2 linked regions of the Homo sapiens genome follow. The protein of the gene in region 1 purifies or fractionates together with the protein of each later gene. This does not show direct contact. Each region holds a gene or a part of one and is shown on either strand. Other genes may lie near its edges.

The links. The genes of interacting proteins can lie anywhere in the genome.
Region 2: the proteins of CARD11 (region 1) and MALT1 purify together in Homo sapiens (affinity purification with western blotting; 6 studies listed by BioGRID and IntAct, with this or other methods). This does not show direct contact.

The regions. Positions count from the first base shown.
Region 1 is NC_000007.14:2,942,857-2,949,881, forward strand, and holds part of CARD11 (caspase recruitment domain-containing protein 11), read right to left. Parts: intron 4,932-7,025; coding exon 4,719-4,931; intron 4,232-4,718; exon of another isoform or gene 3,741-4,231; intron 3,101-3,740; coding exon 2,963-3,100; intron 1,682-2,962; coding exon 1,356-1,681; exon of another isoform or gene 1,179-1,355; intron 1-1,178. UniProt on the Homo sapiens protein: Adapter protein that plays a key role in adaptive immune response by transducing the activation of NF-kappa-B downstream of T-cell receptor (TCR) and B-cell receptor (BCR) engagement.
Region 2 is NC_000018.10:58,666,758-58,674,464, reverse strand, and holds the start of MALT1 (mucosa-associated lymphoid tissue lymphoma translocation protein 1), read right to left. Parts: upstream 3,001-7,707; 5' UTR 2,822-3,000; coding exon 2,613-2,821; exon of another isoform or gene 2,592-2,612; intron 1,853-2,591; exon of another isoform or gene 1,606-1,852; intron 1-1,605. UniProt on the Homo sapiens protein: Protease that enhances BCL10-induced activation: acts via formation of CBM complexes that channel adaptive and innate immune signaling downstream of CARD domain-containing proteins (CARD9, CARD11 and CARD14) to activate NF-kappa-B and MAP kinase p38 pathways which stimulate expression of genes encoding pro-inflammatory cytokines and chemokines.

The sequences.
Region 1 (7,025 bases):
GTTGGCTCCTTTCATCCCTTCAGATCTCTCTTCATGTGTCTCCTTCTCAGAGACCTTTCCTGGACACCCTAGTTAAAGTAGCAATCCTCATGTTCTGTCCTCACGCCCTGTCTTCTCTTCTTGATAGCACTCATTTCTACCAAGTATCTATGCATTTGTTTTCTGATTACAATGTTAGTTCCACGACAGAAGGGTTTTAGTCTTCAGCTATGTATCCCTGGAAAAGAGCCTGGGGGCCAGGTGTGGTGGCTTATACCTGTAATCCCAGCACTTTGGGAGGCCAAGTGTGCAGATTGCCCGAGCCCAGGAGTTCAAGACCAGCCTGGGCAACATGGTGAAACCCTGTCTTTACTAAAAATAGAAAAAGGGGGGTGGGTAGGATAAAAATAGAAAAAAATTAGCTGGCATAGCATGTACCTGTAGTCCCAGCTACTTGGGAGGCTAAGGTGGGAGGATCACCTGAGCCTGCAAGGCCAAAGCTACAGTGAGCTGTGATCACACCACTGCACTCCAGCCTGGGTGACAGAGTGAGACTCTGTCCAAAAAACTCCTCCAAAAAACCCAAAAACAAAAAGCCTGGTACCCGATGGAACTCAATAAACAGAAAGAATGAACGAGGCCGGGTGCAGTGGCTCATACCTGTAATCCCACCACTTTGTAAGGCCAAGGGAGGCAGATCACTTGAGCCCAGGAGTTGCAGATCAGCCTGGGCAAAATAGCGAGACCCCTTTTCTACAAAAAAATTGAAAGAATAGCCTGGCGTGATGGTGGGCACCTGTAGTCCCAGCTACTTTGGAGGCTGAGACAGGAGGATCACTTGAGTCTAGGAGGTCAAGGCTTCAGTGAGCCATGATCACACCACTGCAGCCTGGGCAGTGGAAGACCCTGTCTCAAAAAAAAAAAAAAAAAAAAAAAAAAAAAAGAAAAGAAAAAGAAAGAAAGAAAAGAAGGAAAGGAAAATAAAAGAAAAGAAAAAAGAAGATGTAAATCTCCTTAATTCATTTGCGGAGTGAGCCATTCTGGGTCTGCATGCGCATGTGCAAGGTGGATCTGGGACTGAGCCGGTGGTGGAAAGCTGCGCACTGGGTCGGTCCTTGTGCGCATGTCTGCCCATGCGCACAGGGGATGTAGGCCGCTTACCCGGTAGCGCTAAGCACTATGGGTACACGTGCAGGTGCATAGTGGACCTAGAACTCCCAGAGGCCCTGTGTCCTCCATTCCCCCACACCTGGCTGGCAGGAAGCTCCGGCAGACCACGTGCATGTGCCTGCACCTGCTTTATGGGAGAATTGAGCCCTGGTGACATTTGTTTCCCCCGGGTCACCCTGGCGGAGTAGCCCTTGGGCACCCCTCACCTCGAGTTGGAGGTCTCGGCTCCTCATGACCGCCATGTTCTTCTCCTCACTGAGCTGTGCGTAGCGCATGGCTAAGTTGTAGTTGTCGTCCTTCACCTTGACCAGCTCGTCATTGTAGCTGTCCCGCTCTTCCTTCATCTTGTAGTACCGCTCCTGGAAGGTTAGCAGCTCCACGCGCGTCAGCGTCATCTGCTTCTTCTCATCCTCCAGCTGCCGCAACCTGGCCAGCAGCTCGCAGCGTTGCAGGTCCTTGGCCTTCATCTGCTGCTGCAGCTTGATGACCTCGTTCATCAGGAAGTGCGTGAGGCCCTCGTGGCCTTCCTCCACTGTGGAGAGGGGGCACCCAGTCAGGCCTGAGGACTGGGAAGTGGAAAAAGGAGGTTCCAGACGCAGGGCAGGTGCCATTCATTCACTCACTCACCAACGTTGTGCCAAGCTCTTTACTCACTCTGCCCACGAGGCACTGGGGATTCAGAGTGAGCGAGACTCACAGCCTTGGCCCCGGGAGAGCTTAGGGTGTAATAAGAGAAACACATTTAAAAAAATCAAATGATACCACAAATAGAATTACAGACCGTGAGGATTTCACAAAGTAAAGGTAGATGGGGCTATGAGAGTGTGTAGCAGGGGCCCAGATCCAGCCTTGTGGGCAGAGGGGGTTGGAGAAGGCTCCTGATGGTTGAGGTAAAATGTTAAGTTCGGGTGGGAAAAGGCATTCTAGGAAAGGGGAACAACATTGCCAAGGCCATATGGGGAGGAGGGAGGAACTTGGCATATTTCAGGAACTGAACGAAGACCAAAGTGGCCGAAGGAGAGAGAGAGAAGAGAAAGGCGAGGCTGGTGGTGTCAGCAGGGACTGGATCATGAAGGGTCCTTGTGGGCTGCATTAAAGACCTGGGACTTTTTTTATATTTTAAAACAGGGTCTCGCTCTATTACCCAGGCTGGAGTGCAGGGGCATGATCATAGCTTATTGCAGCCTGGAACTCCTGGGCTCAAGCAATTCTATGGCTGCAGCCTCCAAAAGTGTTGGAATTTCAGGCATGAGCCACTGTGCCTGGCCAAGACCTGGGTCTTTACAAAGAAGCAATGAAAAACCACCAAAGGGTTTTAAATAGGGGAGGAAGAATGGAGAAAGCACTGGAACAGATCGGGAATGGATATGGAGAGTTAATGGGGTTGTGGGAGTCTGGACTGTGGGAAGTGTTGGGGCGGGCGAGAAGACTGATTCAAGAATGTTTAGAAAGGAAGATTAAGAAGGCAAGATGCTCAAGGGCTCTGGCCCATGAGACACTAGAAAGAATGCAGGCAAGGCAAGGACAAGATCTACGGGGTAGAATGAACTTGTGTTCCACCTGGCGCCATTCATGGGGGATGGTCCGTGAACACCCACTTCTCTTGGTTCCTGCTTCCCTTTGCCCCTGTTAACCTTTCATCATCAAGCAAAATAAGTGGTTGACAGACCCCAGTTCTATATGTCATAGATTCACAGCTTAAGAACCATGCCACTACTGAGGACACACACACACACACACACACACACAGACACACACACACACACGCCCCTCCTCTTAGAGTCCAGATGTTCCCAATGGCAAAAGCACTTACCCACAATGGTGGAGAATCTCCGAGTGGGCTCTTTCCCAGTCACCAGTTTGTACAGTTCTGGGTAATAAAATTCTAGGCTCTCCAAGAAGACCACATAGCCCCTTTGCCCCTTGGTATGTAGAATGTCCAACAGCCGGCCTAGGGGAAAGACCAGATCACTCTGTGAGAATACATATCTGATGGAACGCAAGTCTCTGTGGCTGGTCTCATCCTGGACTTGTGTCCTTCAATCAACTCTAAGAAGACAGTCTCCCCACATTCTATCACTTCTGAGTTGTATCTTGGAGCCCAGATGACGTAAATCAAGGTGCCAGGCCCTCCGCAGGGATTTGGTGAGCGTTAGTTTTCTGTTTCTAATAAACTGGTAGAACCAGGATAAATGGAATTGCCGCCCCAGTTTTGAAGAGTTTCCCAACTGACCAGGGCCAAAATGAACCACGTAGGCACCAGGTCTTCTATGACTGAAGGAGGTTGGAAGCACGATAAAAATTATGGAATAATATATGGTTCTCTGGGATTGAGAGCAGGAAGACAAATCTTTGGGTGAGAGGCTAGGAAAAATCATAGGAAGTAGGGATAGTTCTAGGTTTTTCTTTGGGATTATTACACAACCTGGAAACACCTTAAATGTAATTTCCCCAGCAGGTCCCAGTTTCTATACTATTGATTCCACTTATTGCTTACATTTCTGGGCCCTTCCTTAAACATTTTATTTTCAGATATTCTTCTGAGATATAGAAGAAGAAAGGTAGGTCTTAAAACTCGACCTTTTCCCTAGGACGGACAGAAGAAATAAATTTGATGGTATGTCAACCCCGATTGTTTGGTGAAGCCGCCTGCAGTACTGTTTCGAGAAACATTCCAAAGTTACATCCAAGCTCAGTGGGAAAGCATGCTGATTACTGATGTCTGCCATGGATGCCAGAGAGTCGCAGCTGATGAGCCACTTACCACCAGCCACGCTGGGGGACAGTGATTATCAAACCTTCTAAACTGATCCATAGAAAGAAAAACATTTAACATTGTGGTCTAGTGACCATAGACAAAGATAACTCTACAAGTACATGTGTATACACATGTACATAATGTAAAATTAAAACAAGCTTCACAAACCATATTTATTACCTTTACTGAATATGATAAACCCCCCCTCCAGAAGTCAGGCTAGAAAAGCTTGTGGAACCCTTCTCGGAATATTTTTAAACAGATAAAGTACATCAGATTACAAAAGAAACCAATTATAATAAAATCCAGTTATCAAATATTAAATAAATTTGTGTTTCAGTAACATACTTCTTTATTAATGCATTAAATAACAAGACCTCTCGGCAGGTCTAATAAGTACTGTAATTTTGAAAGAGAGATGAGTGTAAGTGGCATTTTGAGAGATTTGCAGTAACTGTAGTGATAGGAAGAGATCTGTAATTTTCATTGTTGCCTAAGTCACAAGAATTACTAATCACTCCTGTAATTTGTGGCTTCCTGACATTTGCAATTGAGGGCAATGCTGAATTGCAGTTGAGGTTGGTAAAATAAAGATGGCATTTCTTCCCCCCTCCCAGTTTATGGATCCTTTGAGTTCCATACACAGACAGCTTGAGTTCTATACACAAATGAGTAGGTGATGGACTGCGGACCCCAGTTTAAAAATCCCTGACCTAGAGCAACTTCATTTTGGTACAGCTACCAAAGGGTATGTCTGGAAGTTGCCGTGTGCGGTAGCCCTCCCTCTCCCGCAAAGAGGTCCTAAGGTTACCTGCTCGGTTGATCTTGGATGGCAGCATAGGGGCATTAAGCACTTCATCTTCATCCTGCTCATCAATGACCTTACACTGACGCAGGTAGGGCGTGAGCTTGGCAGGGTTGATATAGCGGCTGAGCATGTGCCGGTTACACTCCACATTCTCCCACAAGGCGTCCTCTTCATCCTTCAGCGTCTCCATGTAGTCATCCATCTCTGGCCCTCCTCCTTTTAGACATAAACCCCAACAAGCTTAATAAAGCAGTCTCACTGGAACAGCTCTATCAACTCCTCTGGAGTGACCTCTAGAATATATTAAGTTAAAAAAAAGTCCTGTACACTAAAGTATATATAGCATTTTACCTTTTGTCTAAGAAAGGGGTTATGAATATAAAAATATATATTTCCTTATATGCTAAACATAAACAATGGAAGTTTAAGCCATCAATTTTAAAAAAGATTATTTATAGGGCAGAGAGGGAAAATCCTGCGGTTGAGTCTACCCTTTCCATCCAAGTTTTTATGTCTTACTAAAAATGTATAGTTCCCTAAACAATATATACTATTGGCTTTTGTTTTAAAATTTCACATAAATGGTGTCATACTGTACGTTTCCTTTTTCAGCATGTTTTTCTCCCTCTACATTTTTTTTTGAGATTTATCTAGATGGATACATATAGATCTAAGTCATTCGTTTTTAAAAATAGCTTTATTGTGATGTAATTCACATAGCATACAAGTTACCTTTTTAATATGTTCAATTCAATGATTTTAGTATATTCACAGAGCTGTGCAACCACCACCACAATCAATTTAAAATCATTTCCGTCATTTCAAAAAGAAGCTCCTCACCCTTTATTAGCCACTCTCAATTTCCCTCTAATCCCTGCTCCTCCAGCCCTGTGTAACCACTCGTTCACCTTCTGTCTGTATAGATTTGTCTTTTCCGTACATTTTATACAAGTGAAATCCTACAATTTATGGTCTTTCATGTCTGGCTTCTTTCACTCAGCAACTTTTCAAGGTTTGTTCCTGTTGTAGCATGTATCAGGACTTCACTTATTTTAAATTGCTCAGTGATTTTTTCATTGCATGGACATGCCCCATTTTGCTTGTCTGTTCATCCACTAATGGACATTTGAGTTATTTCTACCTTTTGTCTATTATGAACAATGCTGCTATGAACATTCATGTAAAAGTTTTTGTGTGACTGTATGTTTTTATTTCCCTTGGGTAGATACGTAAGAGTGGATTGTTAGGCCATATGGCAACTCTATATTTAACATTTTGAGGAATTGCCAAATTGTTTTCCAAAGCAGCTGCATCATTTTACATTGCCACCAACAAGCCATGAGGGTTTTAATTCCTCCATATTCTTGCTAACAACTTGTTATTGTCTGTCTTTTTTATTACAGCTCTCCTACTGAGTGTGAAGTAGCATCTCATTGTGGTTTTGATTTGCATTTCCCTAATGACTAACGATGTTGAGCATCTTTTCATGTGCATATTGGCCATTTGTGTGCATTGAGAAATGTCTATTCAAATCCTTTGCCCATTTTAAAATTGTGTTGTTTGTCTTTTTATTATTGGGTTGTAGGATTTTGTTATGTATTCTGGATGCAAGCCACTTATCAGATATATGACTTGCAAATATTTTCTCCCACTCTGTCAGTTGTCTTTTCACTTTCTTAAAAGCATTGTTTGTAGCACAAAAGTTTCAAATTTTGAGGTAGTCCAATTTATTTATTTTTTCTTTTTTTCACTTGTGCTCTTGGCATGTATCCGAAACACCATTGTCTAACTCAAGATGATGAAGACTTACTCCTGTTTTTTGCCTTTGAATATTATACCTTAGTTCTTACATTGAGGATGATCCATTTTGAGTTAATTTTTGTGTATGGTGTGAGGTAGGGGTCCAGTTGCATTCTTTTATGTGTGGATGTCCAGTTGTCCAAGCACAGTTTGTTTGAAAAGACTACTCTTTCCCCATTGAATGATCTTGCTACCCTTGTTGACAATCAACTGACCATAAAAGTAAACATTTGTTTTTGCACTATTGATTCTATTCCATTGATCTATATGTGTATCCTTATGCCAGTACTACATTGTCTTGATTACCGAAGATTTGTAGATTTGTAGTAGGCCTTGAAATTGGGAGTATGGGTCTCCCAACCTTGTTCTTTTTCAAGATTGTTTTGGCTATTAGGTGCCTTTTACCTAATTTTAGGATTAGGATGTCAATTTCTGCAAAAAAGGCAGTTGGCATTTTGGTAGTGAATCTGCTGAATATGTAGATCAATTTGGAGAGTACTGCTACCTAAC
Region 2 (7,707 bases), on another chromosome or scaffold:
TTACCATCTTGAAAGACAGGTGAAACTCATCTGCCTCTCATCAGACTTCCCACCCCAAATTCTCAGATTCCACAACTGCATGCCCTTTGTGCTTGCCACCTCTTGTTAGGCAACTGTCCCCTTCTCTCTGTGTGACTCCACAGAAAAGTGGCCTCAAATATTTCCTTTAGTTCCCCCAAACAAAGCTAAGACCATTTTGTAGCCTTTAACAAAAACTGACTGAAGGCAGGCGAGGAAAACACAACACCCAACATCAAGTATCCGCTGCTTTTGGATTCCAGCAGCCACGCTTCTTCCCTGGCAGGGCCTTGCTGACTTTCTTCTCTCTCCTTCATGGCCATGTAGGAGTCCTCCATACCTGGCTTTCTTCAGGAAGCCCAGAACCTTCCCTAACCAGAGTACTCGTTAGCACCGTAATACTCTGGAGATCTGCCCCCAAAGACAATTTTTTACATTATGGTAAGTCCAGAAATTCAAAATTTTATGTACCTAGCATAACAATATTTTGTATTTGTTTTTTTTGCATATCCAAAAGCCCAACGTGTTTTTCCTAGAACAGAAAAAAATTATGCCACTTCTCTGCTAGGCCTTGCTAGTTATTCCCTCCTCACATCATTACTCCTTTGCACAAGCAATAATCCCAAGTCACTATTATCCTTTGCCTCAATCCCAAACTCTGAAACAAGAGTTGTCAGGAGGGTTTAAGAAAATAATGTGGCCAGGCAGGGTAGCTCATGCCTGTAATCCCAGTACTTTGGAAGACTGAGGCGGCTGGATCACCTTAGGTCAAGACCAGCCTGGCTAACACAGCAAAACCCCGTCTTTACTAAAAATACAAAAAAATTAGCGGGCTGTAGTGGCGCACGCCTGTAATCCCAGCTACTCAGGAGGCTGAGGCAGGAGAATTGCTTGAACCTGGGAGGCGGAGGTTGTAGTGAGCCACGATCACACCACTGCACTCCAGCCTGGGCGAAAGAGCAAGACTCCATCTCGGAAAAAAAAAAGATAATGCAAAAATAAGAAGAATAAAGAAGAATGAAGCAGCAGCAGCAGCATGTAAACATTTAGTATATTTTGTGGTACATACCATGTCCTCAATAAAAGATAAAAATCCATTATCATTCATACCCAACACAGCATTTAATATGTTATTGTAAAGGTCCCCAAATAATAGTCCATTCCTGGATAAACCCTTATGATTAGGAATTGAATATTTGTTAGTTTTTTATCTTCTAAAATTTCTAGCAAATAATAAGCACTTAATAAATACCATTTTGAATGAATGACTTTCCTCTCATCAAGTATTTACTAACCTCTATACATAACAGAATATTAAGAGACAGTTTTTGTTCTTAAGGCATTTATAAAGATGTGTACAAATAATTATACTGTAAGACAAATCTTTGTCATTTGAGAAGTTCAAAAAACTGCTAAGGGGTTCAAAGGCAGGCCAAAGTTACAACAATGGTATAAAGTAATGGTTCTAAGTGGGGTCTGGGAACCCCTAGTGCAGTTCCTGAGACCCTTTCGCGGGGTCCACAAGGTCATAAAGATTTTTCATAACAATATTAAGACTTTATTTAGCTTTTTCATTCATTCTTTCAGGAGTGGACACTGCAGTTTCCAGCGTTCTGTGACCTGTAATAGTGCGACAGACTGAATGCAGAAGCACATAAACGAATCCAGCTCTGTGATTAAGCCAAGACATTAAAGAGATCTTCAAAATGAAAACCAATGCCACTTCTCTAATAGACTTTTTTGTTTTGGAAAATTTGTTTTTCCACGAAAGTATTATTTCTGTTACCATATAATGGGTTATTCTTTTTAAATAAATTAATATTTTTTAAATGTCTTAGCTTTAATTTCAAAGGTGGTAAATATCAGTATGTATTACATGTATGTATTATCTCTAACCCACATAAGAGCTCTCTGGGGTCCTCAATAATTCTTAAGAGGGTAAAGGAGTCTCGAGACCAAAACTTCAGGAACCCTAATACAGCCATTCCAAACCTAACAAGGAAAATAGTTTTACTTCGAGTTTCATGTTCATGGTGAAGTCAAGAAGAGAACGTGGTAACCTGGTTTGATGGAGGGAGATGATGAGTTCGGCGTCAGTCTTTCCCAATACCTTGCAAAATGTTCATGAATTCCTGCACCCCACCCTCTGCATTCATCACCTCGCCTGCGCTTCTTCCCAGCCTTCCTTAGGTCTCCCAGAGCAGTGTCCACATCCCTTTCTTTTGCATTTTAAGTCCTCTGGATGACTGCCCCATCCTAGGGGTCCCCTGACAGCTTTCCTTCTCTCACTATCCTCCGGGGTCAACCTCGACTTCTCCCTTTCACCAGGGGCGGGGGTGGGAACAGGGAGCGAGGCAGCCGCTGGGCCACTTTTGCCTCCACCCTCCAGAGCCCTGGGCCCCGCTCTCAAACCCCAGGCGTTCCGGGGAGCTGCTGAGTTCCGCTCCGCCTCAATGACCGAAGTCCTCCCCACCTCCGCTCACTCACGCCGGCGGCCCCCGCCGCGCTCAGCCCCACCGACAGCGCCCCCACCTCCCCACCGCAGCCCACCCCGCTCGACCCGCGCGCCCGGCCTGCCGCGGCCCTGAGCTCACCTGAGGCGGAGGCGCCCGCGACTCCCCGCCAGCTCCGCCAGTCTCCTCCAGCCCCGGCCCTCGGGCGCCTGATCCAGGAGCTCGCTGAGCCTCCGCAGCAGCGGCTCCCGCAGGCGGTTGAGGGTCGCGCCGGCCGGAGGGGCGAGCAGCGGCCCCGTGGGGGCGGCCGAGGGCGGCAGGGCCTGTAGCGGGTCCCCCAACAGCGACATGGCCCTCGCCGGCGACCCCGGACTGCCGGGGCTCCCGCCCGCCCCGTCACGGGCCTCGGCCCCGGGGCACCTTCCGCTCGCCTCCGAGCCGCGGAGGCAGGGGCGGAAGAACAAATCTGGCAGCGCGGCACGGCCCTCAGAGGAGGAAGCTCCGCTCCCCGCCCCAATTAGACAGGTTTGCCGAGGGGAGCCTGGCCTGCTGGCCGCGCCAGCCGCGCAAAGGGGCGGGGCACCCGGGGGGCGGGGCACGGAGCCTCGAGGGGCGGGACCTTGGGCCTCGAGGGGCGGGGCGGGGCTGCCTACTGCGTGCGTGCGGCTGCGCGCCTCCCTCGCCCTCCCCCGCGGTCCCGGGCTGGCCGTGGCGCGCGCTTCAAACCCAGCCCTCCCGAGCAGGAAAGGACGGGTGGGTGCAGCTGGAGGAGGAAGCGGTGGAGGAATTACGCCCCGGCAGCTCCTCTACGGCGGGGAAGCCTGCGGCGTCTGGGCTTCCTGAGACCGTGGGAGGAGGCCTGCGTACTCACGCCAGAGAGCGGGGCAAGCGGTTCTCAGTCGCCGGCTCCCGCCCGCAGTCCCCGGCGAGCGCTCTCCCCTGACTCAGGGACTTTCATGTGCCCGGCGACACACCAGCATCCTGCAGTGGGCAACCTCAGCGGACGCTTCCTCGTTTTAGGGTTAGATGTGTATGGCATTGCTAGAGGGAAGTAGTGCTGGAGATCCGGATACTTGAGTTGGAATTGGCCAAAATCTTTGCCTAGACTTTTAAACAATTACTACTTTGCAAACTGAGCTGTGGCATATTTAGGGCTAATCAGATCTTGGAAATGATTGTTTTTAGCAGGAATCATCTGGTTTACACCGCGTCAGACTGCCGCCCGCAATCTCCGTCATCAAAGCAGGCAACCCTGTAGAGGATGCCTTTCCCTGGAATGATCCGGAATGGACGACACCTGAGCTCTCTCTGCCAATCTTAGCAACATCCAAGGCCATTATCCCTTTGAAAACTATGGCTTCGTTTGGGACAAAAAGGAAGTAACTTACGAAATGTGACCAGTCAGGTAGTTCCCTACACGAGGCTTCCTGGCCCAATTTCTGTTGCCATTAGCTTTTCATCACCCAAGGCCGCAGGATTTTCTGACCAGTAATTTGGATACCTATATTCTTATACATGTTGGCGAGGTAGGTGCGCCATACAGTCTCCACCACATTCTAGCACAAGCAGTCATTAAACTTCACTCTAGCATAAGTTAAGAATTCAGACTGCAGTGAGATGGCTAAGAGCATGAAAGATCTGCTCGATTCAAGTGTTAGGAGCTTGAATAAGTTTCTTAATTTCTCTGCCTCATCTATTAACACAGGACTGACAATACAGTTTATATAGAGTTGTTGCCAGAATTAAAGGAGTTGATGTATGTGAAGCACTTAACTCGGTAACTGGCACATCGTAGATGACTCAGTAAATGCTATTACCCTTACACATACAAGTGCCGTTTCATACTCAGTTTGACTTGGCAAGCCTTTCCCAACCGCTTCAGGTGCCTTCCTGTTTTGTCCTCAATTACTGTACAAATATTTTCTGAGGATCTGTTACCTGCATGTGCCAATTATGGAAATAAAATCTTCTAGTCTTTACTGGAATCCTGCCTTTTAATTTAAATTCAACAGAGGTCTTCTAAATTTAGACTTCTTAGAAAAGTCTGCCATGTACAAAGCGTTGCTTATGCAACCTCTCGTGTGCATACGAGTTAAATGGGTGCCAGTGTTATTTACTCTTAGCCAATATAGCTCAGCTGGGCACTGTTTTGACCTCGAGTTGTACGCCCCCACCCTGGCTTCCCAAGTGACTGCCTCCCTCGTTTTACCCTACTCCCAACCTTTTTTTCCACCTAGCAATTTTATACCCTATCCAGTCACTACCCGCCACCCTCCATCCTCTACCCAAACTGACATTACCTTTTTTGACTGGTCTTTTTCTCTCCTCAATCAAATGTTAATATTTCTATGACATAATTTCACTCCTGTGGTTCTCTTATGGGCATAATGGTATAGTAGAATGTGACCTTTAAAGTTAGTCCTGAATTGGAAACTTGATGTTGCTGCCACTTACTAGTCTAGTGGTGGAACTTAGGTGATCTACTTAACCTCTCTGAGCTTCAGTTTCCACACCTGTAAAAAGTGGAAAATAATAGTACCTAATAGTGTTATATAGCGTCAGGGAGAAGTATGTGCATTGTATATTAGTACTCTTAAAACTGCTACATCAATTTTGGGAACAATGTAAATAGTAATTCAGCTTTCTTTTCTATATTAACCGTTATGTTTATATAAAGATAGGAGAAAAATTGGGGGTAAAGATCTGGCTTTTAAATGTCCCTTAAAAGTTCATGCATGTCTATAGATAATAGCCTTGGGAGTTCTTCCTCATTAGTTCAAAGTGAAATAGATCTTTGTAAATCCAGACAATTGGCAGGAAGCTTGTGGTTTCAATATATGGAACTCCATTGATGTAATCTTCAAAGCACTCATAGGTCTGGAAACTGACTCATAGGATTTTTTTCCTTTATACAGTTTAACTATAGATGGTACTCCAACTAAAAAAAAAAAAAACGCCAGAATGATATATTATTTCACAGTTGGACAGGGTTTAAAAGACTCAGTGCAGGAGAAAACCTGCTGGTCCTTGGATCTGTATACAATGGAGGGAAAGGAAGCAGGAGTTATGTGGCTTAAATGGCATTCATGGCCGAGCGTGGTGGCTCACACCTGTAATCCCAACACTTTGGGAGGCTGAGGCGGGCAGATCACGAGGTCAGGAGTTCAAGACCAGCCTGGCCAACATGGTGAAACCCCATCTCTACTAAAGATACACCAAAAAAAATTAGCCAGGCGTGGTGGCACGCGCCTGTATTCCCAGCTACTTGGGAGGCTGAGGCAGGAGAATCACTTGAACCCAGGGGGCGGAGGTTGCAGTGAGCTGAGATTGTGCCACTGCAGTCCAGTGTGGGCAACAGGGCAAGACTCTGTCTAAAAAAAAAAAAAAGGCATTCATTGTCTGCCATCCCTTATTCCATGCTCAGCCCACTTTGTGACCTCTCTGACTCAGCCTCTGTAGGAGCCACTCAGGTGACCCACAGACACAGGCTCAGCACATCCCCTGCAGCCCATTCTTGCCACCATCTTCCAAAGGATTAGGGAAATTTTCTCATTTCGATTTCAACTTTGTAATAGTAGCTAGGCATCATGCTAGTATTCCACACTCTTCCTTCATGATGAATCATCCAGACCTAAATATTTGATCCTGACCATGGAAAGTCTACACCTACTTGTCTAAATTGATTCATTCACTCAATCATTCATTCCGTCATGAACACATATTCTTGGGGCACCAGGCTCTGTATCAAATACATACTGTTAAAGAATAGTTTTTATTTGATTAATTTATTTATTTTGAGACGGAGTTATGCTCTTGTTGCCCAGGCTGGAGTGCAATGGCACGATCTCGGCTCACGGCAACCTCCACCTCCCAGGTTCAAGTGATTCTCCTGTCTCAGCCTCCTGAGTAGCTGGGATTACAGGTGCACACCACCACGCCCAGCTAATATTTTGTATTTTTAGTAGAGACGGGTTTCACCATGTTGCCCAGGCTGCTCTTGAACTCCTGACCTCAGGTGATTCACCCATGTCGGCCCTCCCAAAGTGCTGGGATTACAGGCATGAGCCACCGCGTCCGGTCTTAAGAATAGTTTCTACAAGAAAGTTTAAATCATGATGCAACAAATATGCAATGAACACATATCAGAGATTTTAACTCATTAACTAACAAGGGAATCAGAAAGGTGTTACAATTACTTCAGAGGAGAACCCAAAGACCAGATAAATATGTCAGCCCACTGAAATGAAGTTGCTTCCTAGATGCAAAACTAGCTTCTTCCACAGTGGAGGAGGGAATGCAATTGAACCTCCACCTGACAATTTATTTAATTATAAACAAGATTCACTTGCATCACTATCAGTTTTCTGTAAGTTCACTGCGATCTCAGAGTTGTAAAGTAGCCTAGTCATGAGACAAAGATAAAGACAACCCAGGCAGATGAGCTAGGCGGGATTCCCACACCACAGTTCGGTCTTCACCAGTTTTCCCTTAGAGTTTGCAGAATACAATGTTGACCAAACCCGATGTCTGCTTAAGACAAGGAACAGGAGGAGTAAGTGCTCTGTTGATAGCAAGAAGTATACAAATCCAGGGGAGAGCCCTTCAGTCCATGTGGAAAGATGAGAGGAGATGGCTTGGGAAACAGGGTAGAAAGAATACCATACTGTAGGCTGGCCGCAGTGGCTCACACCTGTAATCTCAGCACTTTGGGAGGCCAAGGCGGGTGGATCACGAGGTCAGGAGTTCAAGACCAGCCTGACCAACATGGTGAAACCCTGTCTCTACTAAAAATACAAAAATTAGCCGGGCATGGTGGCAGGCAGCTGTAATCCCAGCTACTCGGGAGGCTGAGTAAGAATTGCTTGAACCCGGGAGGTGGAGGTTGCAGTGAGCCGAGGTCGTGCCACTGCACTCCAGCCTGGGTGAGAAAGCGAGACTCCGTCTCCAAAAAAAAAAAAAAAAAAAAAAGAATACCATACTATAAAAGCACAGAGCCAGAAAACATCACAGCAAGGTTGGAGAACTGCAGTTGCTCCAGGAGAGCTGGGGATACTGATGGGAAAGGGACAGAGACCACGATGTAAAAGGCAGTGAAGACCAGATTATGTCATGCCAAAAGCTGAGATTTTATTCTGTAGATACATACCTACCACAGAGCCATCTATGCCCCACTGGTGTTATACAAGATGCTTTTAAGTCATAACATGGATGAACATTTTTATCTTAATAGTTATAC